Linked DNA regions of Homo sapiens: region 1 is linked to region 2. The links come from fine-mapping of genetic effects on gene expression. Tissue or cell type: pancreas. Region 2 holds a variant in brackets; the other region holds the start of a gene. All regions are shown on one strand. Distances are between the middles of the regions.

The links. PIP is the estimated chance that this variant, and not a neighbour inherited with it, causes the effect.
Region 1: PDLIM3 starts here. The variant in region 2 is fine-mapped to the expression of PDLIM3 in pancreas (GTEx, PIP above 0.99).

Annotation. Positions count from the first base shown.
Region 1 is chr4:185,534,135-185,536,752 of GRCh38, reverse strand. It overlaps PDLIM3 (PDZ and LIM domain 3), which reads left to right and starts at 1,246. Exons shown (of 8, transcript NM_014476.6): 1 at 1,246-1,411. The coding sequence starts at 1,319.
Region 2 is chr4:185,582,607-185,585,366 of GRCh38, reverse strand. No RefSeq gene overlaps it. Among named protein-coding and RNA genes, the nearest start is that of SORBS2-AS1, 3.9 kb to the left of the region's middle. The variant T/C (reference allele first, on the strand shown) is at 1,328.

The DNA.
Region 1 (2,618 bases), 49 kb after region 2:
AATGATGCCAAAATGACCAGCAAAAAGGCAAAGAAAAAATCAGCTGTTTATATAAGCCAGCTCGTGAAGTAAGGTAAAAACAATTACTATAATTACACAACACCAAATGACTTGTCTGATTTTTTTTTTCTGAATGGACCTCTGTGTGTGTGCACGTGTATGTCTGCACCACGCAGACAGAGCCAGCAGCTGACTGAAGAAATGTGCTCTGCAGTGATACAGCCACAGCCCAAACAGGCAGTCAGCAGGACACACAATGTTCAGCTCCTCGATGGTCCAGCATAGATGGGGCACTGGGAAATGTGTGGAGCTAGAAAGTGCTTATCCCCTGGGACTTTTATGTAATCCACCACAGCGGACAAAGTAATGCCCATCCTACCTTTGTGATTTACATTTGCCCAGGCTGGTTCGCTTTGCTTACTGCTTACTGCTTACTGCTTTCTGCATCTCCTTTCTCTTTCCTCCATCAGTCTTAAAACTGCTTCCAAACAGACTGCCCTCTTAAAAGTCTGCTGCAGCTCTGTCCTCCTGGACCAATACGACCCTATCATATGGGGCATTAAGTCCAAGACCCTTATTCTTGAGTGTTTAAAGCATTTCTTATTTCTCTTCCCTCATTCTCCCCTCTCCCTTTGGGAATCACAACATCCCAACGCGTAACACCAGAAATACTTGAGTCCACACTGAGACTACCACAGGACCCCGGCCAGACTCTCCTGCACTTTGGGAGGCTGAGGTGGGAAGATTGTTTGAGCCCAGGAGTTCAAGACTAGCCTGGGCAACAAAGTGGAGACCCGGTCTCTAAGAAAAATAAATAAATAAAATAAAAATTTAAAAGGACATTAAGTAATTTGGCCAAAGCCGCAGAGGTCGTAAGTAAATATTAACGCACTCGAAACTGCTAAATAACTTATTGTATCGATGATGCTCGTTTTAATTGAAAGCATGGAGGCTGTGGTCTGGCTGCTTTCGCTTCCAACAAAGTGCACTGCTGCGCTCCAAGCAGAAGATAAACAGGGAGACAGGTGTGACTTCAAGAGAGCGACGGACGCTGTAACCCGAAGCCCCCGCGCCCGCCGCGGCCCGGGAGGCTGCCCCAGCCGGCCGGGCTGCGCACTCCCGCGGGGCTGGCGCGGCTCTCGCTTCCAAAGTTGGAGCTCTCCGGGGTGGGAGGGGGCGGGGAGGACGGCGGGGCGGTGACGTCACCCCCAGCGGGGATAAAGCGCCCCCGCCCGGGTCGGGGCCAGGACGCCGCCCGGCGCGGAGTGGCTGCCCTGCGCGGGGACACTTAGAGCCCGGTGGGCGGGAGGAAGGCGGCATGCCCCAGACGGTGATCCTCCCGGGCCCTGCGCCCTGGGGCTTCAGGCTCTCAGGGGGCATAGACTTCAACCAGCCTTTGGTCATCACCAGGGTAGGTGTCGGCATTCTTGCTTTTGCTGCGAGGTGGGGACTCCGGCGGCGTCCGGGGGGACGCAGTGGATGCCCCGGGGCCGAGGGCGGCCAGAAAGCGCGCGAGGGCGGGCGGACGGGGCGCTGCTGGCTCCCGGGCTTCGGCGCCCAGCTCCGGGGGCGGCGGCAACTCCGTCAAGTGGCTGCGGAGCGGCTCAGAGATTTGACAAAGTCCGCTCTAAAGGTGTCCCATCCTCTGGGTCCGCAGCGACTTTCCGAGGAGAGCCACTGGGCTCAGGGAAGGCGAGGCTGCCAGGCTCGAGTGCCTCCTCCCCTTTAGGTTTTAAATGTTTTATATGTGATAACAGAAATAAAACACACCCCATCGCCCTTCCGTAACAAATGATGGGTCCCGGGTGGGAGAGGCGAGGGACTGGCACCCCCCGGCATTCCCTGGAGCTGGCGCGCATCTGAGCGTTTTTCTCGTCCGGATGAAAAGTTCAGCAGCGCGCTGTTCGCGGGGCACGACCTGCGTTGGCCAAACTGGAGCCGCTCCTATCAGCCCAGACAGGGGAAGTCTTCCTAATGCTCACTCCTCAGTTTCCAGGCATTTTGAGCACGTTTTCCAAAGCTGAGAACTTGGCTTAGGAATTACCAACTTCTAACTCTAGCTACAAAGAAAACGTGGCAGACAGTTTAGTTTACCTGATGCAAAGTAAACCACTCAGCCTAAAACGGAAAATAATGCTTTAATGTCAAAGTCAAGCTTTACTTGGTGTTCTCTACTGTCTAATGAGAAAACAAGGTAAAAATAAAACCTCAGGGTTTCTCTCCTGTCAGTAAATTTGTAGAATTAATTCTAAAGCATTATTTGGTCTAGCTGGTTTTTTTCTAACACAATGTTTTTCTTCATAGAAAATTAATGTATTATTTCAGTTATCACATATAAAACATTTAATACCTAAAGGCGTAAACTTCCAGAATATTATACTTTTAGTTGCAGAGTATTATACTTTATTTTCTTGTATTCTTCTCATGCCATATTTTATAATTGTATGTGTTATAATCTGATTGATCTGCTCATACAGATTTTGAACAAGGTAATACCTTTTAAATTCTGTTTTATTTATATATGCCTATGAGATTTGGGAACCAACATCCTTTTAAAAATATGTCAAAATGTGTATCCTACAGACGCATACAATGGAACGTTTCAAGCCTTGTTTTAC
Region 2 (2,760 bases):
CCCACCACCAAAGCTCATTTGCTAAACGTTCTTTGGCTAAAAATTGCCCTTCAGTTAAAACAATACATTGTAAAATATTTCTGCCTCAAAACAGCTAGTTTTCCAAGGAGGGGTTAGTTACAAGGAGTTGTAAGCACTTTCCCAGTTCAACACTCTGAAATTTTAAAATCTTTGCCCTAAGCAGCTTCAGCACCATTGGCTCGGCAGCTTCTGCAAATGTCCACAGGCTTTCAGTGAATTTCAAATGATGGGTGGCGGTGGGGTCCCCGCTTTCTGCCACACAAATGGGAAAGAGCCAGCTTGCCTGCTTGGATCTTTTCTCATATACCTTAGTCCCTTCTTGCTCTATGTGTTTTGACCCTTTTCCATATCTATCTCTTAAATATTCAGAAATACGGACATTCCTCTTTTGCCAACTCGGTTATCAAAGATGTCTTGTCACGTTGCTTCCCCTTAACACCCACTCTGGTGCCTTCTATGCCATAGGATAATTCCCACTCTATATTAGCATTCTGCTAAAATGTAATCCCTTTGGGTGAAGAATATACCCCATAATAGTCTTTTGGTCTTGTTTTCATCTGAGTGTGTAAGGGTCATATAACTAGATCCATCTGACCTGTCCATCCAGGTGGGTGGAAGGGCGGAAGGAAGGGACCCTCTGATACTTACATGCCAGATCTTCATCCCTCCTTTAGCTGCATCATCACTAAAGACAAGCAAGTCCTTTTCTTACTTGATTCGATGCAGAAATAACCTATTTGAGTAACTTTTCACAATCATCCACTGCCTGATCTCTCATAGTAGGTGGTTGGTTTGTGTGGCCTGATCATTTCTTCCTGCTGTTTTCCAGATTTTAGCCACAAAGAAAGATATTATTTAAAGAATTATCTGATCACGGCCGGGTGCAGTGGCTTATGCCTGTAATCCCAGCACTTTGGGAGGCCGAGGCGGGCAGATCACCTGAGGTGGGGAGTTCGAGGCCAGCCTAACTAATATGGTGAAACCTGGTCTCTACTAAAAATACGAAAATTAGCTGGGCATGGTGGCGCGCGCCTGTAATGCCAGATACTCAGGAGGCCGAGGCAGGAGAATCGCTTGAACCCAGGAAGCAGAGGTTGCAGTGAGCTGAGATCACGTCATTGCACTCCAGCCTGGGCAACAGAGAGAGACCCTGTCTCAAAAAAAAAAAAAAAAAAAAAAAAGCCACACACAATTATTTGATCAAATAAGACTAAGTATCCTGTCAGCTTCCAGTGCCTGTTTATTTAATTAATTATTTCATCCCCCTCTGCAGATGGTAGCTCTCTAACAGTTCATTCATCACTTA[T/C]GATTTCAGATTATTTACTCACCATTAATGATTACAGTTAGAATACAAGCAGAGATTGGTGCTATTAATAAGCTGTCCATAGCAGAGATTTCCAAACTGTGGCCTGTGGACAAAATTCAGCTCACGGCCTGCTCCTGCATGGCCTGCAAATTAAGAATGGTTTGTACAGATGAACACTGGCAATCCCCTTGATAAGAGGGAACTCTAACTTTGAACCTCAGTTAAGTAAAACGCTATCTCCCCAGAAAAGGGTTCTTTTCTTTTCATTAGTAGATCTATGTTAGAAAAAAAACTGTGCTCTATTTGTATTATTATATTCCTAAATCAGTAACAATTGGTGGAAATGTGTTTTCTCTTTATTATGTAAGAAAGAACGTACATAATATCCTTAATTTTGCCTCCTAGCTCACAAAACCTAGAGCATTTACTCTCTGTTTCTTTAGAGGAAACGTTTGTGAACGCTTGCCTGTGCCGATTGGTAGCAACACACCTGGAAACTGGAAACTGACCCGAGGGAAAGAAATAGCGAACACCTGCTGTACACCAGGCTGTTCCTCACATGCGTTCCTTATCTTTATGCTCACAAGAAATCTGACAGGAAGTCTGCTTTGTGCCCATTTTAGAGATGAGGGAGCTGAGGCTCTGGGAAGTTAAATAACTTATCCAGACATGTAAGGTATTATACATAATATTTGATTGAAATCGGATTGAGAATCTCACGTGTCTATCTCCCAAGCCTGTCATCTTTCTTCCAAACCATGTAAGCTTGGTGCTAAACACATTGTGGATGAAGCTGTGCACTCAGGGTTGAGCAGCTGCACCCATCCACCTCCTTCCCTCTCCACCATTCTCACAAGCAGGGCTGACATGAACAGACACCCCCTCATAGCAGCATCTTACTGTGCACAGGATGAAGAGAAAGAGGTGTACCCATCAGCACAAATTGTTTCCCTGAAGAAAGCTGAGTTTGGTTTCTAAAAGGACACTAACCAGTGAGAATATACTTTCAATGACTGACATGTTTTGACTGAGCACAAGCCTGTCTGTGAGTTGAATCAATGGGAGACAGGCGAGCCCAGCGTGCTCTAGGAATGCTGCGTGCTTGCCGGACAGCTCTTAAGCATACAAAGCCCCAAGATACACCAGCCATTTTCTGCTGGATGACTCTAAGTGACCTGAGCCTGAGCTCACTGCTAAATTCAGCCCCTCCACAGGTCAGGACAGTTCCATCTGAGCTCATGCACATGCATATAATCTTGACCCAAAAAACGTTCAGTACAAGACAGAAATCTGCCTAGTAAATCTTCACCTGTTCATTTGGGGTTTCTTGTTTCATTCTTTCCCCTAAAATACTATGGGTGACTCAGTTGTCCCTGTGTCTTCCAAAAATAAGTGTCATTTCCAATACAACTCTTGTTACCATTAACAACACC